Homo sapiens: one gene and its partners. The protein of the gene in region 4 interacts with the protein of the main gene of each other region in a pairwise test. Each region holds a gene or a part of one and is shown on either strand. Other genes may lie near its edges.

Region 1 (7,364 bases), on a different chromosome or scaffold from region 4:
ATGAAAAAAAGAAAAGCCTGCAAAGAAATACACCAAAGCAATTTTTAACAGTGATTGCCTTTAGAAATGGAATTAGGGATGATTTTTTAAAATTCCTTCTATTTCTCTGATGTTTCTGTAATGAATACATATGATTTTTCAGATGGGAAACAAATTCAATAAATTGTATATTTTTAACTGTCCAGTTGATGCATTCCAAGAAGGTAAAGTAACAAAATCCAAATAAATGTACAGCATACCCATAAACTCAAATCACCCAACCTATTCCTTAAGATCGGAATTGTGGTTGTATGAGAATATTTAGGAAGGTCAAGATCTTCCCCTTTAAAGGTGATTTAAGATAAACCAAAGATGCTAGCTAATATGTCCATATAACCAAATACAAGCTAATTTGTTTTGTTTTGTTTTGTTTTTTGAGATGGAGTCTGGCTCTATCACCCAGGCTGGAGTTCAGTGGCGTGATCTCAGCTCACTGCAACCTTGACTTCCAAGGTTCAAGCGATTCTCCCACTTCAGCCTCCTGAGTAGCTGGGATTATAGGTGCACACCACCATGCCCAGCTAATTTTTGTATTTTTTCATTTTGTAGAGGTGGGGTTTGTAGAGATGTTGGCCAGGCTGGTCTCGAACTCCTGACCTCAAGTGATCCACCTGCCTTGGCCTCCCAAAGTGCTGGGATTACAGGCATGAGCCACGGTGCCCGGCCACAAGTTAATTTAAATGAGATGTTTAACTGAATTTTTAAAAGTCAGATTATAAGGCTGGTGTGATGGCTCAGGCTGCAATCCCAGCACTTTGGGAGGCCAAGGCAGGAGGATTGCTTTAGCCCAGGAGTTCAACACCAGCCTGGGCAACATAGGAAGGGCCCGTCTCTATTAAAAATAAATAAATAAATGTCGGATTATGTATTTTCTGGTATTTTTCCTTCTTTCTGAATCTTAAAATACATACAGAAAATTAGTCGGTCTCCAAAATTTTCCACAAGTGCACTAATTAGAATAAGTCCTGGAAACAGAGGATTTGTATAATAAAATTCTAATCAGGTAACATATTATGTGGTATATCTTCATTACCACTCAAGAAACTTTTATATACATAATATATTTCAAAATCAAAACTCAAACTACTTACTGGAATTGTTGAGGATGGAAACTGGCAGAGGAAATAGTCCCTGAAGTGGGATGAGCTACCTAGGATGTGAATTAAGGCAAATAAAGTAAAATATAGAAGGCCAGGCACGGTGGCTCATGCCTGTAATTCCAGCACTTTGGGAGGCTGAGGCAGGAGGATTACTTGAGCTCAGGAGTTCGAGACCAGCCTGGCCAACATGGTGAAACCCCATCTCTACTAAAAATACAAATTAGGCCGGGGGCGGTGGCTCACGTTTGTAATCCTAGCACTTTGGGAGGCCGAGGCGGATGGATCACCTGAGGTCGGGATTTCGAGACCAGCCTGACCAATATGGTGAAACCCCATCTCTACTAAAAATACAAAAATTAGCCAGGCGTGGTGGCGTTCATTTGTAATCCCAGCTACTGGAGAGGCTAAGACAGGAGAATTGCTTGAACCTGGGAGGTGGAGATTGCAGTGAGCTGAGATCAGGCCACTGCATTCCAGCCTGGGCAACAGAGAGAGACTCCATCTCAGAAAAAAAACTACCACCACTACTACTACTACTACTACTACTACTACTACTACTACTACTACTGCTACTACTACTACTACTAATAATAATAATACAAATTACACTTGGGAGGCTGAGGCAGGGGAATGGCTTGAACCTGGGAGGCGGAGGTTGCAGTGGGCCGACATTGCAGAGTGCGGCACTGCACTCCAGCCTGACCACAGAGCAAGACTCCGTCTCAAAAATAATAATAATAATAATAATAATAATAATAATAATAATAATAACAACAATAACAACAACAACATAAATTCGCCTGGCATCGTGGCGCAACCCTGTAGTCCCAACTACTTAGGAGGCTGAGGTGGAAGGATCTCTTGAGCCCAGGAGTGAGCCGAGATCGTACCACTACTGCACTCCAGCCTGGGTGACAGAGTGAGGCCCTGTTTCAAAAAAAAAAAAAAACCAAAAAAGCAAAACCCTAGAAATTCCTTTTAAAGATCTCCTTTCTATCCGGTAACTGCAGAGAGTTGACATAGAATTGCATTGTTTCTTTAGCTTAATCGGTTACTTTCGGAATGTCACTCTCATCAATTAACATGTTATCCTTTCTTTCTCTCTGTTTCTCTCTTTTGGAACGCACTGGCCATCACGGCTCACTGTAACCCTGGACTCCTGGCCTTGGCCCCCAGAAGAGCCGAGACAACAGGCAAGGCGTGTGCCGCCGCGCCAGTCCTCACCCGCTGTCCTTCCCCAAATAGTGTCTTTATATAACTCAGTGGCAATGCCGTAGTCCAGCAGGGAGGCCGCCCTGGGCAGCGCCTGCCTGGCCAGCTCCTGCCCGGGAGGGCACCGTCCTCTCCCCTCCGGAGAGGTCCCGGTCACTGCCTGCCTGGGCCGGTTCCAGGCAGCCCTGCGCGCCTGTGCACCGTGCGCCTGTGATTGGACATCTCTGGGTCTCTGGACAGCTGCCGGGGTCACGCGCCGCCGGTGAAACGACGTCTCCACAAAGAGAGGAGCAGAGGCCCCCAGGGATCCCGGAGGGCAGGGCAACGCGGCAATTGCCCCGACCCCAGGGCGGCCGCGCGTGTCCTCGGGGGACGCAGCCTCTTCCCCGCTCCCCGGCTCCTGGAAGAGACGCGACCCAGGCGGGGACGCGGCGCTGAGCGAGGAGGCGCTGGGGCTGCGAAGCGTGCGACCCCGAGGCCTCCACCCGGACCAGGGCCACCACTCAGGCGGCGGCGCCGGCGCCGGATCCAGCCCGAGCCCCGCGCAGCCCAAAGGATACGACAGCCCCGGCCGAGGGGCGGCCGAGGTGGCCCAGAACAATCTGCAGACGGGCGGCGGCGCGAAGCTGCTCCATGGCTGCGGCGCGGGGAACCCCCACCCCTCCCGGCCTCTGCCCCATTTAGCCCAGCGGGCGGCTCCGCCTCCAGGCGCCGCCCCGGACTGGACGTAAGCGGGATTCCGGGCGGTGCCAGCTCGCGGGCCGGGCTGCTGGGGAGCCCTAGTCCGCTAGAGTCCGCGCGCCGGGCAACCGCCCGGGGCTGAAGTCCTCCCCACACCATGATCCTTCCGTCCTTTATTTTCTTTCTTTTTAAAAAGAAACAAGATCTTGCTCTGTCGCCCAGGCTGGAGTGCAGTGCGCGATCATAGCTCACTGCAGCCTTGAACTCTTGGGCTAATTTTTATTTTTTGTAGAGATGGGGTCTCGCTACGTTGCCCAGGTGGGTCTCAAACTCCCCCCGCCTCCCGTCTCGACCTCCCAAAGTGCTGGGACTACAGGCGTGAGTCATTACCCCTGCCCCGCACCCTGTTTCTGTTCCATCACCAGGACCCTCCCTGCCGCACCGAAGCTCGGGGGCCCAGTGACCAGGCCGAGGTCACACAGTGACAAGTGGCTGGGCTGGGACCTCACTCACTCTCCTAACGTCATGGCTTCCATCTGTTTAACCCTACGTGACTGCTCCTTCCACTGACAGCTGAAAGAATAAAATCTCCGATTTAAACAAAAAGTTTGCCGGGCGCGGTGGCTCACGCCTGTAATCCCAGCACTTTGGGAGGCCAAGGCAGGCGGATCACGGGGTCAGGAGTTCGAGACCAGCCTGGCCAACTTGGTGAAAACCCGTCTCTACTAAAGATACAAAAATTAGCTGAGTGTTGTGGCGCACGCCTGTAATCCCAGCTACTGGGGAGGCTGAGGCAAGAGAATCACTTGCAACCGGGAGGCGGAGGATGCAGTCAGCGAGATGGCGCCACTGCATTCCAGCCTGGGTGACAGGGCAAGACTCCGTCTCTAAACAAACAAACAAACAAACAAACAGGTTTTTAGCCGGGTGCGGTGGCTCACGCCCGTAACTCCAACACTTTGGGAGGCCGAGGCAGGAGGATCGCTTGAGCTCAGGATCGCTATAGATCGAAAGCAGCCTGGGTAACATAGTGAGAACACCTGATCTACAAAAAAATTAGCCGGGCGTCGTGGCGGGCGCCTGTAGTCCCAGCTACTCAGGAGGCTGAGGCAGGAGAACGGTGTAAACCCAGGAGGCGGACCTTGCAGTGAGCGAGATGGCGCCACCGCACTCCAGCCTGGGCGACAGAGCAAGACTCCGTCTCAAAAAAAATAAAAAATAAATCAATAAATTAAATAAATAAAAATTCCAGACATTGTATGAGGAAGCATTGCAAAACTTTCTGTTCTGTTAGCTGTTGCCTGTAGCCCCCAGTCATGTTCCCCACGCTTGCTCGATCTCTCACTAAACTTTCACGTAGACCCTTAGAGTTACAAGCCCTTAAAAGGGCCAAGAATTTCTTTTTCAGGGACCTCGGTTGCAAGTCTGCCGAAGTTCCCGGCCTAATACAGCCCTTCTTTAATCCGGTGTCTGAGTTTTGTCTGCGGCTCGTCCTGCTGCAGGAGGATCACCTGAGCCCGGGAGTTTGAAGTTGCAGTGAGCCCAGATCGTGCCTCTGCACTCCAGCCTGGGCGACAGAGTGAGGCCATGTCCAAAAAACACAAAAACAAAAAACAAACAAAACTCCAAAACATCAATGAAGTTTTGAAAATAAAAATAAAAAAATAAAAATGCTAAGATGCATCCCTAAAAGTCATATGTGCCATTCAAAAGGGGTATTTCATTTAGTGGGACTCCAGCCCAAAATATTAGAAAGTTCGGTTGGTCATAAAAAAAAAAAAAGTGAATAAAATAAATGACCTCCAGAAAAGTCTGATGCACACAGGCCAGTATGGTGTAAATTTCTTAGATAACTCCAGCATCTCTTTGTAAGATTTATTTTCCATTCCATAACTACGGATATTGACATAGCATCTCATTGTTTCTTTAGTTTCATTTTTTCATTGATTTTTTGTTCTTTTTTAGCTTCGAGTTACTTCCAGAACGTCGCAGCACACGTTATCACTTCCTGCATGACGTCTTTATAGAATTTGGTGACAATGTCGCAGTCCAGGAGGGAGGCCCGCAGCCAGCATCACCAGCCCCTTCCTGTTTGCACAGGCAGGGAGGAGAACGGCAGCTCCCAGGCTTCCACTGGGGAGTCCCTCCGGCTTTCTCCGGGATTCCGCCCGCCCCAGGGTCTCAGACCAACAGAAGGACCCGGGATCCCTCAGCAGCTCCGGACCTCATCTGCCCCACTTCGGCATCCCGCGCGGGAATATGACCATGTAGGAGTAACCCGGGGCTCTCAAGGACTCTACGGTTTGTCACGGTTTGAACGCAAGCGCAGGGCCTGGGGCGGGTGCAGGTGGAGGGTCGGCCTCTTTCTGCCCTTGGGAACGCCCCTTTCTGGATGTGGACCGGCGAGGCGGTCTCTCCTTTCTGCCCTCGCCTGGTGAAATGTGGGCACTGCTGCCAGGAGAAAAAAAACTGAAGCTGTGAATTCAGTTCATCACCCTTCCCTTGTTTATTAAAAAATCGGACCTTGGCCGGGCGCGGTGGCTCACGCCTGTAATCCCAGCACTTTGGGAGGCCGAGGCAGGCAGATTAGGAGGTCAGGAGATCGAGACCATCTTGGTTAACACGGTGAAGCCCGGTCTCTACTAAAAATACAAAAAAGTTAGCAGGGTGGTGGCGGTCGCCTGTTGTCCCAGCTGCTCGGGAGGCTGAGGCAGGAGAATGGCGTGAACCCGGGAGGCGGAGCTTGCAGTGAGCCGAGGTCGTGCCACTGCACTCCAGCCTGGGTGAAAAAATAAAAAAAAAAAAAGATCAGGACCTTTACCCGCGCTGACGGTGATTGGTTTTCATGACCAATAAAGAAATTCGAATGAGATGAAGCTACTTACACCTGTGTTTTTACTGTTCCTTTAAAATGCCCTAATTTCACAACCATGTGAAAATTCCTGCCATCTCTCCCCCAAGGCATTTATACAAGGATGTACTTAGATATTTAGATGTATTTAAATTTATGCTTTTCTTTTCTTTTTTTTTTTTTTTTGAGACGGAGTCTGACTCTGTTTCCCAGGCTGGAGTGCAGGGCGTGATCTCGGCTCACTGCGACCTCTGCCTTCCGGGTTCAAGAGATTCTCCTGACTCAGCCTCCTGAGTAGCTGGGATTACAGGCGCGCCATCAAGCTCAGCTAATTTTTTGTATTTTTAGTAGAGCCAGTTTCACCATTTTGGCCAGGCTGGTCTCGAACTCATGACCTCAAGTGATCCGCCCGCCTCAACCTCCCAAAGTGCTGGGATTACAGGCGTAAACCACCGCACCCGGCCCAAACTGATGCTTTTTACCGACAGATGAAGGAAATTCTTAAATGCTCACAATTGTTATCTGCCTTTTTAAAATTAGAGGGATGCTGGGTTTAACATTTTTCATTTAAGATCCCACGGAGAATTAACATAATAATTTCTCCGTAGGTAAAGAGGTAATTTGATGAATGTTACTAGTTTTCTTTCAAATAGCTATTTGGATTATTGGAAAATTCCCTAAGTAGGCATCTTTAATAATTATGTTATTAAAATAAAAATATTTTAGAACAATTGAAGCAGAACATTAATGGAATGTAAACATTATCACAAGAATGAAAAGTTCTTTCCCCTTTGGTATTAGGCATTTATTCATTTCTTATTAAAGTTGACCTTTTGAAGATTACTTCAAAATTAGCTTCCCCCCACTTCCAGTAATGTGCTTGGTTACTTACGTATTGAAAGTAACCTTGCAGACAAGTTTTGAAACACAATTTTCAAAATGATCTAAGGAATAGTTTTCCCCATATATATAAATTAAATGATTTGTTAAATAATAGCCATATTTGAACAGCTAAGTAAAATGTTTGAGTTTTAAAATCTTGGATTAAATTGTTCAAACTGGCTAGGGGAAGTGGGTCACGCCTGTAATCCCAGCACTTTGAGAGGCTGAGGCAGGTGGATCACCTGAGGTCAGGAGCTCCAGACCAGTCTGGCTAACATGTTAAAAACCCGTCTCTACTAAAAGTACCAAAAAAAAAAAAAAAAAAATTAGCTGGGCGTGGTGGCACATGCCTGTAATCCCAGCTACTCAGGAGGCCGGGGCAGGAGAATCGCTTGAACCCGGGAGGTGGAGGTTGCAGTGAGCCGAGATAGCGTCATTGCACTCCAGCTTGGGCAACACGAGTGAAACTCCATCTCAAACAAAGAAACAAACACAAAAACGAAAACCAGAAAACAAACAAACAAACAAAAACCCCAGAAAATTAGCTGAGCGTGGCACACCTGTAGTACCAGCCACTTGAGAGGCTGATGTGGGAGGAT
Region 2 (6,500 bases), on a different chromosome or scaffold from region 4:
GTAGGACAAGAGGTTGACCTTTGCCCCGTGGAGCTCAAGGTGCACCAGGGAGACAGGCCTGGAGCACCTGCTGCTAACAACAAGCAAAATTACAAAACAAAACTTTAAAAACCAGGTTGAGGAGGCAGAGGTGCGGGGACCTGGGAGGGCCTTGTCAGAAATGTGGCTGTCACATGGAGCCCAGGGGAGAGGGGAGGAGGTGAAGGAAGGCTCTGTGCAGGGGCTGCGTGCGGGAAGGCCCAGAGGACCAAGAACATTCTCAGGATGGAAAGGAGAGGAGGAGAGGGTGGAGACATGGGTGGGGGTCAGGCAGGATGAGCGTCAGCTGAGGATGCATTTTGGCTGGACTGCAGACAGTTCAAGGAGAATCTGCACTGGAGAGATCTATTTTCAAGGCTGGGTATGCAGGCAGCACCAGGACACGGGCAGCCACGTGATGCATCACGCAGCGGGGCTGCTTCCGGGAGCCAAAGGGGATGCTGTTCACAATTACCTGGGTCCCAGGCACAAGCCAGGGCTGTCCTGGCAAATGGGCCACCTTGCCAGTGGATCCGTGCCAGCTGCTTCGGTAACCATGGTGGTCTCCAATAATTATCCTGTGAATTGTGTGGCTCAAGTGGAGCAGACCTGGGTTACAGCTACCCTGACATCCCTCAGCGCCAGGAACTCAGGTCCATGTCACAGCCCTATTCTTTGTGTTTTAATCCAATGTGGATTCACCTGATGTTTACTGAGCCCAGACTGCCAGTGGTTTATTTTATTTTATTTTATATTTTATTTTTTTTTGAGACGGAGTCTCGCTCTGTCACCCAGGCTGTGTGTTCTCAGCTTGCTGCAACCTCCACCTCCCGAGTTCAACCGATTCTCCTGCCTCAGCCTCCTGAATAGCTGGGACTACAGGCACCCACCACCACGCCTGGCTAATTTTTGTATTTTTAGTAGAGATGGATTTTCACCATGTTGGCCAGGCTGGTCTCAAACTCCTCATGTAATCCCTCATGCTGGGATTACAGGCATGAGCCATAGCACCCAGCCAGTGTTTGTATTTTCACAGGTGAGACATAAAGGCTCAGAGAGGGCAGGCACTTGACCAAAGTCACACAGCTGATAGATGGCTGAGCTGGGATTTGACCCAGGGTCTTGTGCCTCACAGCTGTTACCCCACCCTTCCTGTCTCCCTTGGATTTCAGGTGACAAGTGTCCTAGGTTCCTGATCACAAACTCAGGGTGGAGACAGGACAGCTTTGTCAGTCCTTTATTCTCTCTAGAGGAGGTGCTCAGTATATCACAGCAGTGGCTGATGTCGGGTGCTTGCCACAGCTCAGCACTGCTCTAATAACTCATCCTAACCACACCAAGCCTTGCTGAGACCTCTGAGCAATCCCACCAGGAGATACAGTGAGGTCCAGCCACTCAGGCCACACAGCGAACAGGAGGCAGGGCTGGTATGGGTGCAGGTGCCAACCCCGACTGTGCCGCCTCTCGGCTAAGCACCTGTGCAGTGACTGAGTGGGCTCGCAAACAGAGGGCTCTGCAGGTGGAGCACCCCAGGCAAGTCCCCACCATCAGCCCCATTCTGCAGGCGCGGCCCCGGGGCCAGGGATGGGAGGGTCTTGCCGGGCATCCAGCGAGGAGACTGCATATTCCCTGCCCAATCTGGCTTCACGGCGGCGGAACTGACGCCACGTCCCAGGGCGTTCGGGGCTGCCAGGCCTGGTGAGCACCGCGGACATCTCAGATGGCCGTTCTGCAGGTTGAGGCCCTCGGTGCCAGCGTCCCCGTGGGCAGTTCTGTGGCTTCCCTGGCCCATGTCGTCCTCTTGGCAGTGGCCACATCACAGCACCAGGTGGGATCAAAGGGGAGGGCAGCTCCCCAGGTGGACCTGAGCTTCTCACACTCTGACAAGCCCTCGCCTGCTGATCCAAGACACAGTGGCCTTTGAAATTCGATTTCCTTCCCCAGGTGAAAGAGGAGAACAGATTCTACACAGGGTCGGACTCAGTTCCCTTTTGATGTCTGTGGTGGCAGAGGGTGGGGAGGGACAGGAACTCACACAGGAGGGCAATCGTCCCGATCTGACGGGGGCGGGATGGATGAGAAAAGCTGGGAAAGGAGGAATCCGGCCCAGAGAACAATGCTGGCAAAAACGCGTCCTGGCCAACAGGTGCCAGGTTTCGTCTCTGGGCAGAACTGTCCCATGCTCTTTGTCTGCACGGGAGGAGGGGGCGGCAGCTGGTGTAAGTGCCACGCCAAGCTTTGCCCAGTCCCTTTGTTCTGCCATAGAGTAAAGATTGCCTTTCTTCCCCACCAGCCAGATGAAATCCCCAGGCCCACAGCAGCTTCACAAACAGCGGGGAGCCTGGAGGGGCAAGGGTGGCCAGGGCGTCATGTCCCGGCCCCTGACCTGCTGGGATCTGAGCTGCTGCCGGGGGAGCTTTGCTCTCTCCAGCCCCAGCTCCTCCAAGCTGCTGCTGTTCTTCCTCCTATGGCTGAGGCTCCACGGTCACCAGCTCCAAGAGCAGCAACCCAGCGAGGGGCTTAAAGCTGGCAGTGGGGACTCAGAGGGTGCCTGCCCTGCCCCTCCCATGCGATGGCAGGCCGTAGGGTTGCCGTGAGAGGCTGGAGGTTGTCGCGGCCTCTAGTCACGGTCCTGTCTTATAGAGTCCCTGCTCCCCTCAGAGCCACGTTGGAGAAATGACTGGTGGACGGTGCGGGGCTGCAGTGGAAAGGGCCTCCCTTGCAGTCCTTGGCTCCAGGCTCTCGCTGGAGGTCATGGGGACAGCTTCCAGACAATGGCCGGGACGCTGGGTGCACTCAGGCTGTGCCACCGATGCTGTGGCCACCACGGGGCATCCCCTTGCCTGCTCTGAGACTCAGTTTCTGTACCCATAAAATGGGCACAATAACACCCCATCCGCTTGTCCCGTTTCATTTTTCCTCACAGCATCATCAGTACCTGATACGAATTTCCTGGTTGACTCACTCACTCACTGCCTGTCTCTCCTGCCAATGGTGGCAATTCCTTGAGGGCAGGGACTCGGTTCCCCAGAGCATGCCTGGCACGGTGCAGTGAACAGACGAGTGGACGCAGTGTACACGTGGGTGCGGCGAAAGCTGCTGGATGGCAGCGTCTGCGTGGCATGGCCCGGGGCTGACGGGTCTCCTCCAACTTGCAGGGGGGCTTCGGGATCCTGGAGGAGATGTGTGTCAACTACGTGCACTACTACCCCCAGACGCAGCTGGAGCTCTGCAAGAGCGCTGTGGACGCCGGCTTCCTGCAGAAGTACTTCCACCTCATCAACAGGTGAGGGCTCCCTGCACAAGCTCCCTGCCCCCAGGGAACCCCGACACAGAACCTCGGGCCTGTTAGGCGGCTGGGCAGATTGGAGGAGTCCAGGCTAAGTTCTAGGAGCAGAGACCTGTGGCGGCATCACTCACCCCTCCCCTCACTCGTTTCCTGCTGAGTCTGGATTTGGCTTCAGAGCCTCCTCAACCCAGCCTGCAGCAGCCATTACCCACCCGCCAAGGTGACAGGAGAGGTGAGGCCGTTGCCGGTGAAGGCAGCATCTGGGGTGGCCTGGCGGAGGCAGCGGGGCTGGGGAGGAGGTGGCAGGACGGTTGCCCCAGGGACAGGACTCGAGTTGCAGGGAGGTGTTGCTGGTGCCCACTGGGCTCCCTGCCCGTCAGCTGCTCCCCAGCCTGGCTGTTCCTTGTCCCCACCAGGTTCAACAACGAGGATGTCTGCACCTGCCCTCAGGCGTCCGTGTCTCAGCAGTTCACCTCTGTTCCCTGGAACTCCTTCAACCGCGACGTACTGAAGGCCCTGTACAGCTTCGCGCCCATCTCCATGCACTGCAACAAGTCCTCAGCCGTCCGCTTCCAGGTGCGCTGCCATGGGCCCGGGTGGGGCATGCAGTCAGGCAGGCCTCATGGGGGGCCCCAGTGAGGGGTGATGGGTCTGCACTCCAAACTGCTGGCAAAAGCACTCGCACAAGACAATGAGAGCAAGTGCCAGGTGGTGACACATAGGCCTAGACAGCCAGCCAGCCAGCAGAGAGAGAGGAGAGAGGAGAGAGAGGAGAGAGAGGAGAGAGAGGAGAGAGAGGAGAGAGGGAGAGGGAGAGAGGGAGAGGGAGAGAGGAGAGAGAGAGGAGAGAGAGAGAGAGAGAGAGGGAGAGAGAGAGAACCAATAACGAGGCAAGGAAGGGAGGGCAGGCACCCTCTCTGGTGACACCTCCACACTGTACCGAATGCCAAATGCAGGTGGTGTGAGCAGGGCGCACTAACCTGCCTAAAAATAAAGCACCAGGGGAGGGGAAGGTAAGAAACGAACCAGTCTGAAGCTGCGAGCTGGTTTTTTCCTCCTTATCTGAGACCCACTGGTATTCGAAGGCATCTAATTTATCCTGGGCCCACTGGGCTGTGGTCAGGAGGCCAGGGCCTATGCAGAGTTAGTCGCGTAAGGTGCCGCAGCCTGGAGATCCAGGAAGATCCTTCCCAGAAGCATTTGGGAGCCAGATTAACTGCTAAGTCAAACATCCTCAGCACCAAGGGAAGGAAGGGCTAATACTGGCTTGCTGAGAATAGTGTGGGGTGGACGTCTGATGGGGTTGAAAACTTGGCATTTGGTGTAGCCTTGAGGGGAAGAGATAGCTAAAAAATATCAGAGCCTGCAGCCAGGGGCTCTGGTTGCTACACTAGGGTGAATGATTAAATTGGGTGGGGACAGAGGCGGGGAGAGGCCTGGATGACTCCCAGGTTCCTGACTAGGTGAATGGGAAGCCAGGGGAGGGGGCATTTACTGAGGTGAGGACCCCCAAAAAGCAACTTGGGGGAGCAGAGTGAGTTCAGTTTGAGACAAGCTGAGTTTGAGGGCAAGAATCCAAGAGGTGGCTGGGAAGTGGCTGGGGAAGCAGCCACCCATCTTGCCCCTCCAGCCTCAGTTTACCTCCTGCCCCCTTCCTTGCAGGGTGAATGGAACCTGCAGCCCCTGCCCAAGGTCATCTCCACACTGGAAGAGCCCACCCCACAGTGCCCCACCAGCCAGGGCCGAAGCCCTGCTGGCCCCACCGTTGTCAGCATTGGTGGGGGCAAAGGCTGAGGGGGGACCTACTCCTCCCCCTCCTCCATGCTGTCCCTGTGGGCTCACACCGGCACTGTGCACTCTACTCTGCGACGATCCCCATGGAACAGCCCTGCACGCCCAGGATGAAGGGGCCAGACCACGCCCCTGCCTGAGACCACGGTCCAATCCAGCCTTCTTCCCCCAGGGTCCCCTGCATGGCTGAGAGGGTGTGGGTGCCCTGTTGACCTACCCTGGACCGAGTGGACCACGACCTCGTCCATTTAAACCCGGCTGACTCAGTGCAGGGACAGCCTGCACAGTGGTCCAGGGTCCAGCCCTCCGCCAGCCCTGTTCCGCCTCACTGGGTGTGGCCTGGCTTCTGGGACAGGCACCATGCTGGGCCGGGGTGTGGAATCACCGGGAACGCCCCCGCCCCCGCCCCGCTGCTCCCGGTGTGCAGCGGGTGCGGGTGCCGCTTAAACATTTCCCTGCTGAGTGGCTCGTGTTTCACAGTGGGCGGCTTCCCTGCGACGGAGGCAGGACCAGGCATTTAGCTAGTTAGAGACTCGCCTGGGAAATTGCTCCATTCCTGAGTAAACAGATATTTTCGCCCACCTAAAGGGAAGCCCTGACAACAACTATCACCAAAAGACGAGGCGGCAAAGATCCAGCGGGGCTTCTGGGCGCCGGTTCCACGTGGGGTGGAATTATTAGCACCAGCTTGCTTCTCTGCCGGTGGGGCCAGCGCTGAACAGACCGGGGTGGAGTCAGGGCTGTGCTTTCCGCGTGGTTCTGCCACTTAGGGAGTGTGCCTTGGGCGGGCCATTTCACATTCCTGACCCTCACTTTTCTCATCTGTAAAACCAGGCTGATGCCGTGCGGGCTAATGAGCCAATAAAGCTCACACTTGGGCTGGCACCCACTGGAGGTGGGTATGTTTGCACTCCGGGCCGTCGCTCCAGGAGAGAGAAGCTTGCTCCTGAGCCTCCTCCCTGTGCCAGGCGTGGTACCAAGTGCTTCCCCCTGAGCGTCCTGAAGCTGCCTCAGCTGGCCTGGGTGGGTCTCCCCTTCCTGCCCTCTGAGCTGCCTCTCAGGGACAAGTTCAGCTCTTTGATGGTTTCTGGAGACAGTAACAGATGCACTTGTGTTCAGCCACTTCAGCAAAACGCTGCCCAGCCTCATGGGGAGAGAGGGAGATGGATGGGCCTCGGAGTCCCCTCGCATCAGCTAAGCGGCTGCTGCTTCTGCAAGGCACTTCACTTCATCACAGAAGGGAAGTCACGAGCCCAGGAGCTCTGCCTCACGTTGTATAAATCACAGCTTCTTGTGGTCCATAAGTCACGGCGCTAGCGCTGTGAAATGCCAGGCCCCAGCCTGGAGAGCCACTCCGGCCCTCTGTCATCTTTACAGCCTAGGTGACAGTAGACACGGAGCA
Region 3 (3,940 bases), on a different chromosome or scaffold from region 4:
GGTCTCAGGCTTCAGACAGACTGGAACCACATCTTCAGCTCTTCTGGGTCTCCAGCATAACCACTGCAGGTCCTGGGTTTCCCAGCCCCTATAATTGCATGAGCCAATTCCTTATAACTCTCAAGATACCACCTATTGGTTCTGTTTCTCTGGAGAACCCTAGTACAGTCCCCTTTTTGTAGATGAGAAACTGAAGTTAAGCCTAGGCTGTTTATGAAAAAACAACCACCCATATGATTTAGGCTTTTTAAAGAAATTATCCACATCTACTGCATTCCAGTTACTATGTGTGAGTGAAGTTCTTCTTGTATGAATTTTAATGCTGTGGGGCCATATAACCAAATATAATTACAGTTATGGCCTAAATAGTTGAGCCACATTCATTAGAGCAGGAGGTAAGATAATTTCTATCAATCACCCAGGAAAAGACTCTTGGCGATATTCATTATCTGTTCAATATTCCCCAACACTGAGCACTTTCTATATGCCAAACACTGTGCTAATGGCTTTTATTCCTCACAACAAACCTCTGAAGTTAAATTTTTATTATCCTCATTTTACAAATGAAGAATCAGAAACATAGAAACATTAACTCTCATTCCTGATCACATAACTGGTAAGAGCTAGAGCTGGGCTATGCTTCAGAGAGTCTGGCTCCAGAGCAGAGCTCAACTGGATCTGGAAGGGCAAACCTTTCATAGAGAGGCTTGTCCTTGTTCTCTTAGGTTAGACTTCAGAGTTCCAATATCCAGGATGCTGCTCCAGGATGGTGGGTGTTACAGATGGAGGTCATGATGTTGAGGGAGGCTGGGAGCCCAGAGGATGAGACACAAGAAAGATCTCTTCATTTCCAGGCACCCCATTGCTGGGGTGAGCCCATGAAGTCCAGAGAGCAAACGATATCTTACCATTAGATTATCTAGATTCAGGTACTTGTCATATGTATTTAACTTTGGTTAGCCCCAAGTACCTTACATACATTCACCCATGTGTCTCAGATGCTGCAGGGGATTAAGGGAAGTTGAGGGTGAACCATTTTGGCCACTGGATCACAAACAAATTGGCTCGCCTTTAAGGTTTACATGGCTGCAGCAGCCGCAATCAAGAGATCACCAAAGAGGAGGTGAATCATGGGACAAATTCCCCTGGGAGGGGTGGAGCTTTAAACCAACATCAGGCAGATGCAAAGAACTCAGCAGAAACAGGAGGCAGTGAGAACAGGAGGCAGTGAGAACAAGAGGCAGTGAGCACTGGGAGCGGGAGTCAGTGACAGACTGTGCAGAGAACACTGAGGCTGGGAACTCAGGAAAACTCACCTCCTGTAAACAGGAGGAAAGGCCAGCCTGTGGCCTCGTGACATCCAAGGCTCTGTCACAGATGGGTAACCACCTTCCTCCGCTACCAGCTCCTAAAAGAACACCTAAAGAGGCGGGTGCGATGGCTCATGCCTGTAATCCCAACGCTTTGGAAGGCTGAGGCAGGTGGACCACCTGAGGTTGGGAGTTCGAGACCAGCCAGACCAACATGGAGAAACCCCGTCTCTACTAAAAATACAAAAATTAGCCAGGCGTGGTGGTGCATGCCTGTAATCCCAGCTACTCAGGAGGCTAAGGCAGGAGAATCGCTTGAACCTGGGAGGTGGAAGTTGTGGTGAGCCGAGATCGCGCCATTGCACTCCAGCATGGGCGACAGAGCGAAAAAAAGAAAAAAAAGAGCACCTAAAGGTCTGTGTGGGATAGACTAGGAAAGATGAAGCCGTCGGTCATCCCCTCCTGCTCTTGGTATTGTGTAGATGATTAACTGTTCCCCTTTCTGGGCATTTTCCTCCTAACCAACACTGAAACAACTGGTTGAATAGTCTCATTTTTTCCAATCACTTCACATATTGCTATGAGTATTGCAAAGTACCCAATCTTTCTGGACCACGTCCTGGCAGTATGTTGGAAGAGCAGAAAAACTGATCTCTATCAATGTTGTAGATCCACTTTCAAAAACCAGCCCAAGAGAAAAACCCAGAAAGAAAACAACTACTATCGTCTTAACTGTTCTACTCAGCCCTTGGTGATTTCACAGCACTTTCATATGCAATCTGTTTACAGCTATGTTATTCACAATAGCAAAAAGTTGGTGGTGGTGCATGTGGGTGTTGACCGGGCTGGGCCAAGAAGCCTCCTCCGGGCAGGCTGCCAGGCTCTCACTGTGGCTGTGGCTCTGTATGGGACAGAGACGGGGCTGAGCTGGCCGGGCTGTGGGCAGGGTGGAGGGCCACCAGCCAAAGGACAGTTGGAGGAATCGAGCTTCATGCTGTCCTTCTCTTCTGCCTCTGATACAGAATTTGATGTTGTGGTTGGATATATAGTACACATTATCATGGATGACATGTTCCGGTTATTATAGAGAAATTTTGTGGACAAGTATTACCAGGAGTTTGAAGACATGGAAGAAAATCAACTCACCTACATGCCTGCTTTTTGATAAATAATATTTGTACATATTATTGAAGTAGATGTGACATTTCATTACATGCATAGAATGTGTAGTGATCAACTCAGGGTATCCAGGATACCCATGACCTTGAGTATTTCTCATTTCTATGTGTTGAGAACATTTCAAATCCTTTATTCCGTCTATTTTGAAACACCCAATACAGTGTTAACAATGGTCACCCTATTCTGCTATCAAGCATTAGAACTCACTCCTTCTATCTATGTTTGTGTCCATCAAGCCACCTCTTCATCCCACATACACACCCTGCCCAGCCTCTAGTAATTGTCATTCTACTCTCTACCTCCATGAGATTAACTTTTACATGCCTTTTTTTTTTTTTTTTTTTTGAGATGCAGTCGCACACTGTCGCCCAGGCTGGAGTGCAATAGCACGATCGCACGATCTCGGCTCACTGCCACCTCTGCCTCCTGGGTTCAAGCAATTCTCCTGCCTCAGCCTCCTGAGTATCTGGGATTACAGGCACACGCCACCATGCCCAGCTAATTTTTTGTATTTTTAGTAGAGATGGGGTTTCACCGTGTTGGCCAGGCTGGTCTCGAACTCCTGACCTCGTGATTCGCCCGCCTCAGCCTCCTAAAGTACTGCGATTACAGGTGTGAGCCACTGCGCCCGGCTACATGCCTATTTTTAATAAATGTATTTACTTGACAGAAAAGTATCCTGAAGGACACCTACTGGAGCGGATTGCTGGATTTAGCACATGGCCTTCACAATATTAGGCATGATAAAGATGAAGGGGCTGGTGCCCTTCATCAGACAGAATTTGATGCTGTGGTTGGATATGTAGCAGACATTACCATGGATGACATGTTCTGGTTATTATAGAGAAATTCTGTGTACAAGTACTACCAGGAGTACTTGGTGCCATAGGCCGGGGACTAGACCTAAGCGATAGTTTAGCGGTGACTTTGTTGAGCAAATCATCTTCTATGCCAGCTTCCCCGAACAAGCTGTGGCACTAGATCCCACCTCCAGGCAAGGAAGAGGATCATCCTGGATGTCACCAGCCCACTGGCTTGGAGAGGCTGCAGCTATTGAGGATAGAACAATACATCTTGGAAAGACTGACTGTTCTGCAACTCATCATTCATGTTAAGTATTAAGGGTCAAAAACAAATGGCTTGATGTGTTTCTCCTGAAACACCTTCTTGTGTTTAGTAACCCTAGTACTCCTCCCATCTCTCAGGTGCTTTTGAATCAGACTGCTGTGGGGCAAACCCATGCCCAGCATTCCACCTGAGGCCCTTCTGCCAGCATACATTCAGTGTGTCAACAGTGTGGAATAACCCACTATCATGAGTCCTCTTTGTCCCAGCAGCTTTGGCATGAACTTTTTTTTCTTTTAAATGAAGAGACGCACATTTTAGTGATTTTCCTTGTGAAATTGCAAAGACTAGAAGAAAGTTAGACACTGACATCTCCATACCTGAAT
Region 4 (6,971 bases):
GACCAGGAGGGCACCTAGTTCCTTTGGGTCCAGCCCTAGTGGGGAGGGTGGGGGTGGGGGATGCCCCAACATCAGAGGTCTCTTTACCTCCAGATAGTCCAGGTCTGTATCCTTCAGCTCCTGGGAGGTGCTGAGGATCTGGAATCAGAGAGAACAACATGTATGAGAGATTACAGAGGCCGGGTGACTTCACTGGGGAAGGCCCTGGTGAGTAGGGAGCTCGCAGGCAGCCTGTGGGCCTCAGAGTATGGGAGAGGCCAGTATGGGGGCCTCGAAGGCTGCAGGGCTGGGCTGGCCTCAAGGCCGGAGACAAGCCTGGAGGGTAATGTGATCCATCAGGTCTTCAGCTGCCCCTGGGACCATCAGCCCACTTTTAGGAATAACCCACGTTCCCACCTTCACCAACTAGGAGCACCTTCCCCCTTCTAAGGCAGCCCCAGAACCTATCAGGACCCCAGACACCAAAGCCTGTGAGATGCTCTGGCCTTGAGGAAGCTGAGCTGGAGAAGGGTGTGTGGGGTGGGGATGCCAACATCAGCGCCCCCCATCACCTGGTAGGAGCTCAGCATCGTGGTGAGAGCACAGAGCTTGATCCTTGTTTCCCTGCTCAGCTCAGGGCTCATGGCATCCCCTGTGTCCACCAGGAACACCGCCACCTATGCAGGGGGTAGGGAAAGACCCAAGGGGCCAGGCCTGCCTTGTTCTCCCACATTCTTCCCAACCCTGCCCCGTCCCATCCCCATCTTCTATCCTCACCCCAGAGACGCCCTTCTTGATTCCCCTTCCCATCCCTGACCTCCTTCTGCCACTTCCCCCCTCACCTTCTTCCCTTCTTTCCCCAGCAAGAAGGGGTGGCTCCACATCCATATGCCCCTGGCGAGGCCATTGGCGCCCCACCTGCAGCCCTGCAGGGATGCCTCTCCTCCTCTTGGCCGGCCGCCCTCACCAGACTCCTGCAGGGGAGAGAAGGGAGAGCATCAGTTGGTCGGTTCCTTGTCCCCACAGACCGGAATACCAGACCCAGCTTCCCCCAGGCAGGAACCCCCATCCTTGCTCCCCGCCTCCCTCCTGCCCCGCCCCGCCCTCACCAGGCCCGGCAAGCCCTGAAGCAAATGGTTGAGGAGGAAGGACTTCCCTGAGTGCTGCTCCCCCAGGACAGCGAGGAGGCAGACTGGGGTGTCCCTGGCCAGAGGGTGCTTCAGGCAGCGGTTGATGGCCCCCATCCTAAGGATGAGGCCCCCAGAGGCATTGATGCGAACCAGCAGCAGCGGCTCCGCCCTCACAGGACACGTCTCCTGGGCCAGGAGAAGAGAGGGGCCCCTGAGCATCCAGGACCAGCTCCTGACCCTGGAATGTGTTCAGCCTGGAGCTCTGTGTCCTGATGTTCTAGAATAGGGCCAAAGCCACCCCCTCCTCTTGGGTCTGACTGATTAGGCCCAGTCCCCAGACCTGCAGTGCAGGGGGCAGCGGCCGCTGCGGCAGGAGCTTCATCTTCTCGCCCAGGCTCCGGAGGCCCCTCTTCTGCTTGCATATCTTCCGGCACTCAGGACAGCAGGGCGGCTCACAGCCCGGGAGACGGTGTGTGCTGAAGCACCGTATGCAGAAGTCGTGGCCACAGTCCAGCGAGATGGGGTCGCGCAACCTCTCCAGGCAGATGGAGCAGGTAGGGAGCTCCCGGGGCGCCATGGGCTGGGGCCCCAGGCCTAGCTCCAACTTGGGGAAAGGTGTATGGGACCTGTGGGGCAAAACAGGCCATTGAAAAGCAGGATGTCTATTGGGGGCAGGGGGTACCGGCCAGGGTTGTGGTGGAAGACTGATGGCTTGGGAGTGGAGGTCCCTTTGTGCCAACCCAATTTCCATCAGTGCCTCCATGGACAGGCGGAGCTGCTCCCAGAGAGGCCAAGCTCTGCCCGTTCCTCACTGACATGTGTCCTAGGACCTGGGGGCCTCAGAGTGGGGGCAGCAGAGCAATGGTGAGAGAGTCTGAGAGGGAGAAAATCTGAGTGGAATGGACTCCACCACATCCCAGCCATGCAAATGCAAGCAAGTTCCTTCCCCTCTCTGGGCCTCAATTTCCTAACTGTCCCAATGGAGAGGATAGCAATACCCCTCATGGGGCCGTTGGGGTGGCCATCCGAGAGGAGGCGTGTGCAGCTGTCTGCACAGTGCCTGGTGCAAATGCTTGGGAAGAGCCTCTCCCGGCGTTCTACAGCGGGGCTCCCTCCATGAGGTGCTGACTTCAGCCAGGCCCCCAGGGATGATACCCTCCACAACCCCATGCTACAGGGACAGTGAGGAGAAGCCATCAGCCTGTGCTGCAGTTGGGCAGATGGCTCTGGATCTTAGAAGATTCCTTCCGCTCTCTGCTCTGAGCTGGCATCTGCCTCCCTGCAGCACCCACCTGCTTCTTCCTGTCCCTCCCTCCACAGCCTGGCGGATCCAGCCTCAGGCGGACAGCCCTCCCGGCTGGGCTGCCGGGCTCTGTGTTCCAGGACCGGCCATTTCAACTGACCTGCCTGGCCTCACTGCACCCATCCCAGCCTGGAAGGCCCTGCTACTTACCAACTGTTGCCGCTGTTTCCCATGAAGCTCTGTTTTCTCTCCTTGGAGAAAAAAAAAAAAAAAAAAGATTTAGAACATAATCCAGACTTCTATCTTCACCCTGGATTTCCAGGGACCCCTCATCCTCCCCACCCCCGGCCCATCCCCCAGCCCAAGGAGGGCCCTTCCCACCCCACTCTCCTTCCCGATCTTAGGACTGAAGACTTGCCCGTTTGCCAAGCCGATGACAAAAGGAAGTGACTGACAAGGCGGGCCTTGGCATGGGAGGCTGGGATGGGGAGAGGGTCCGGATGCAGAGGGGGAGGCCCCGAGACCTTCAACCAGAGGTAAGGATGCCTTTTCTCCCGGAAAGGCTAGCAGGCTGCGGTAGGTAGAAGGTGAGGTCGGGGGATGGTATCCCCGAGGAGCTGACTCCCGGTCAGAGCTGGAAAAGAAATGTGACAGTCAGGAAAGAGGAGGCTGCTGCTGGACTCACCCCAGGGGGAGGAGACACGGCTGCGGGTAGCAGGGCTCCGAGGAGGGAGGGATGGAGCCCGGCTCAGAATCCCTGGCAGAGGCTGGGATGCAGGCAAGCCGAGGTGGTGAGTCGCCATGGAGACAGAAGGGAAAGATAAGGACAGGGAGGGGGAGGGGGACAGAGAGGGAGAAGGCGTGCGGTGCACCCGCAAACATGGAGGCGCCTCCGGCAGAACCATGGGCCAGCACTGCCTCTACTGGGCCAGCTGAGGTCTCCCCAGGGCCACAGGACAGGGTGGGCAAAGAGAAGAGGTGTGAGAAACAGGAGAGGGTAAGACCAGAGCTGACCCAGAGACAAGGAGTTATTCATCCATTCATCCAATGAACAGTTACTGAGTACCTACTATGTACAGAGCCCCCAAATGCAGACCCTACTTCACATGGCCCTGCACATCCTCCTGCTCTCTCTCAGGTTTATGTCATCGACGCCCAACCCAGCTGCAGCCTTCTTCAGCACTCATGGGCCCTCCGTGTCCTCTGGTGTATTTCCCTCCCAATAGCTTTCACTCTGCCTCAAACTTGAGCAGGATGAAATCTATCAAAACTATGAGCCACCTCTGGACCTTCTAATGGCCTCTTGACTGGGCTCCTTGCCTCCCTTCCACTCCCCAGTGCACAGCCAGCATAGGCTCCCCAAGCACAGATGACCTCACACTGCGCAAACACCTTTTGTGTCTCCCTACTACCATCAGATCAAAATCCAAACTCTCCGGCCTGCGGACTGGGCTGAACCTTCCTTCCACCCTTCTCTCGCCCCACTCTTCCCTGCCTCTGCACCCTGGCTTGGCTGCTCTGCTCCTTCTCATCCCTCCTGGGACACCCTCTTAGGCCCAGTGCAGGTGCTGTGGCCTCCCTAGAGCCTCCTTTCCTCACCCCTCCCAACTGGGTGCGGTCTTGTTCTTGGACAGTTGAGGGCTGGGATATGTGATAGGCTTGGCGCAGCCCAGGCTTCAGAGCCAGGCAGATCTGGGCTTGATTCTCGGCTCAGGGGCTCTGGGACTCCACTGCACCTCTCTGTGCTCTGAGGAGCCACCATTACCTATGTAAAGCCACTAGTCCAGGCACGGGAGTCATTCGTACATCCTATGAGCTAGGATGCAGAAGGGTTGGGGTGAGGTGGGATTCAGAACCTAGAAAAGTTCAGCAGAGACCACCTTCAGCAGGTGGAGACACCCCTGAAGCTGGGGCTGGATCTTGTTCATTTTGGTGTCTGGAGGGCCTGAGATTGTGGGGCTGAATCAATCAGATTCAGAGAAGCAGTGCCATAGACTCTGCCTCCTCCTGCCCCAGGTGGGACAAGCCCCTGTGTGTTGGCAGCAAAGCCTCACACTCAGGGGATGAGGAAGCAAGCCTGAGCCGTGCCACAGCTCTGCCTTCAGGGCAGAAGGGAGGGTTTTCTCAACCCCTGTAGCCTTTCATCCTTGCAGGAGAGAAAGCGTGGGCGCTGGACTCAGATTCAAGCTCTAAACCTGCCTCCATCCCAGCATGAAATGCTGGTGAGTCACTGCCCTCTCTGAGCTTCCATTTGCTCATCACCAGGCAAAGATGTGAGGAAGCAGATGGGACAATCAGTCTTCACTTAATGATACTTACTGAGCACCAGGTACTGTGTCTCACACTGCAGTACAGCTGGAAACAAGAGAGACAAAGCTCCATCCTCCCCAAGATCCCAACTGGACAATTAAAAGGCATTGCTATGATCTGGGTGAGAACCTGGATGCGGGGAGGGTGAGGAGGGGTGTCAGGCTGTCCTGATAAGCAAGGAGGTAGAAAAAGGTTGTCAAGGCAGGGCAAACCACAGGTACAGGGCCCAGAGGAGAGGGGACACAGAACCCATTCTGGGGAACAAAGGAGGTCCGGCTGGCCTGGCAGGAATATTTGATGCAAAGATGGGTGCACCAAGGTGAAGGGCAGAGCAGGCCTGGGTCATGCAGGCCCTCAGGGGCCAAAGGAGGGGATAGGGACTTCACCAGTCAGTATCTCAGGAGGGATCCCGCAGGGCAAACATGTATGGTAGAAGCCTCACTCTTAGGGCTGGCTATATAATTTTATTTATTAATTATTGTTATTATTATTATTATTTGAGATGGAGTTTCGCTCTTGCTCAGGCTGGAGTGCAATGGCATGATCTCGGCTCACTGCAACCTCCGCCTCCCAGGTTCACGCGATTCTCCTGCCTCAGCCTCCTGAGTAGCTGGGATTAGAGGCATGTGCCATGACATCTGGCTAATTTTTGAATTTTTAGTAGAGACGGGGTTTCTCCATGTTAGTTAGGCTGGTCTTGAACTCCCGACCTCAGGTGATCTGCCTGCCTTGGCCTCCCAAAGTGCTGGGATTACAGGTGTCAGCCACCACGCCTGGCCAATTTTGTTGTTGTTGTTGTTGTTGTTGAGATAGGGTTTTACTCTGTCACCCAGGCTGGAGTACAGTGGTGTGATCTCAGCTCACTGCAACCTCTGCCTCCTGGGTTCAAGCAATTCTCCAGACTCAGCCTCTCCAGTAGCTGGGACCCCAGGTGCACACCACCATGCCCAGATACTTTTTGTATTTTTTTGTAGAGACGGGGTTTCATCATGTTGCCCAGGCTGTTCTTAAACTCCTGAGCTCAAAGTGATCTGCTTATCTCGGCCTCCCAAAGTCCTAGGATTACAGGCATAAGCCATGGTGCCTGGCCAGGCTAGCTATACAATTTGTGGATTTGGTGAAAAATGTAACTGCAAAGCCCCCACCAGAGGCAAGAAAGTCCATTGCCTCTTCTAATGGCACATTGCCTCCACACATGGCCAACAGGCAGCCCCTCCAGATTGCCACAGTCATTTTAGGACACGCTCAATACCTGGATTGGGGGTCGGGGAGAAGCCTATGCTAAGTTTCAGCCCAGGGAGGGGAGAGCCACCACTCTGTCACACCCTAAGATGCCAGGGGCCAATCCAGCAGTCCCCAGTCCTCCTTGAGCCTGCATTCAGGCCTCCAGATGAAGGGGGGCAGCCATGGTGGGGCAGAGGTGGGGACACTGGGAGCCTGGGAGTGGGCAGCCAAGAGCCTGTGCTGGGGAGGCAGTGGGACATGGGACACACACAAACCAGCTTCCGAATTCCCAGTGAAGGCGCCATTTTCCCATCAGACTTCACTCACAAAGCACAAATTCAATGCTAAAATGATTGTTTCAAGATGGTGACCAGAGCACTGAAGCCCAAGCACACAGCCCTTCTGAGCTCTCGCCTTGAGTGGCTGCACTGGATGCATACCTGGGAAGCTGGCCCCTCCCACTCTGGCTGCTGTATGGACAACAGACTAGAGGGGCAAGCGGGGAGGCTGAGGGTGCTGCTGGGGAAGTCAAGGCCACAAGTGGAAATACAGATCCACTTGGGATCATACCCGGGCACCTAAAAGAGGGCATTCCCCAAGGCACGGTACAGGCCGACCAGGTGGATAGGAGACGGGAGGAACACCAGGCCTGCTCCTGGATAAAGGATGGGATAAAGGATGGGCCCTGCTCCTTTGCAGCCAGAGGCCTCTGATGCTATCTAGGGCCCCAAGGGGAACCCCTGGCCCAGGGAGGCCAGGTGTGGTGGTCCTGGGTCCATGTCTATGGGCAGCCCCGCTTTATCCATTATGCTCCATGAGTCTCTTGAGTCTACGGTCTATGAGAATGTTTGAAACCTAATGGAAAAATGAGACTCTCCAAACCACAAAAAGAAAATTTCAAAATCAAAAGTAACACCCACTTAGTTTAATGTCCCAGTACCCCTTACATGATGTTAGCTGGTAAACCCAGCTCGAGTTATCATCTGTAAAGTCAGATTCAAGTCATGAGTGCACTGATTCAACAAATGTTTACTGAGCACCTACTAAGTGCTGGGCACAGTGCTAGGTTCTGAGGAGTCAGGGTG

What was found.
Region 1: the proteins of RNF112 (region 4) and PHYH interact in binary tests that used the Homo sapiens proteins (3 or more experiments, as listed by UniProt).
Region 2: the proteins of RNF112 (region 4) and DBH interact in binary tests that used the Homo sapiens proteins (3 or more experiments, as listed by UniProt).
Region 3: the proteins of RNF112 (region 4) and PEX26 interact in binary tests that used the Homo sapiens proteins (3 or more experiments, as listed by UniProt).

Annotation. Positions count from the first base shown.
Region 1 is NC_000010.11:13,297,057-13,304,420, forward strand, and holds the start of PHYH (phytanoyl-CoA dioxygenase, peroxisomal isoform a precursor), read right to left. Parts: upstream 3,009-7,364; 5' UTR 2,987-3,008; coding exon 2,912-2,986; intron 2,708-2,911; exon of another isoform or gene 2,364-2,707; intron 1,190-2,363; coding exon 1,131-1,189; intron 1-1,130. UniProt on the Homo sapiens protein: Catalyzes the 2-hydroxylation of not only racemic phytanoyl-CoA and the isomers of 3-methylhexadecanoyl-CoA, but also a variety of other mono-branched 3-methylacyl-CoA esters (with a chain length of at least seven carbon atoms) and straight-chain acyl-CoA esters (with a chain length longer than four carbon atoms).
Region 2 is NC_000009.12:133,653,347-133,659,846, forward strand, and holds the end of DBH (dopamine beta-hydroxylase precursor), read left to right. Parts: intron 1-1,240; exon of another isoform or gene 1,241-3,176; coding exon 3,177-3,304; intron 3,305-3,723; coding exon 3,724-3,883; exon of another isoform or gene 3,884-4,062; intron 4,063-4,969; coding exon 4,970-5,101; 3' UTR 5,102-5,983; downstream 5,984-6,500. UniProt on the Homo sapiens protein: Catalyzes the hydroxylation of dopamine to noradrenaline (also known as norepinephrine), and is thus vital for regulation of these neurotransmitters.
Region 3 is NC_000022.11:18,101,987-18,105,926, reverse strand, and holds the end of PEX26 (peroxisome assembly protein 26), read right to left. Parts: 3' UTR 531-3,940; downstream 1-530. UniProt on the Homo sapiens protein: Peroxisomal docking factor that anchors PEX1 and PEX6 to peroxisome membranes. PEX26 is therefore required for the formation of the PEX1-PEX6 AAA ATPase complex, a complex that mediates the extraction of the PEX5 receptor from peroxisomal membrane.
Region 4 is NC_000017.11:19,407,262-19,414,232, reverse strand, and holds the start of RNF112 (RING finger protein 112), read right to left. Parts: upstream 3,002-6,971; 5' UTR 2,825-3,001; coding exon 2,771-2,824; intron 2,763-2,770; exon of another isoform or gene 2,734-2,762; intron 2,604-2,733; coding exon 2,563-2,603; intron 1,736-2,562; coding exon 1,450-1,735; intron 1,296-1,449; coding exon 1,089-1,295; intron 954-1,088; coding exon 822-953; intron 657-821; coding exon 552-656; intron 139-551; coding exon 88-138; intron 1-87. UniProt on the Homo sapiens protein: E3 ubiquitin-protein ligase that plays an important role in neuronal differentiation, including neurogenesis and gliogenesis, during brain development.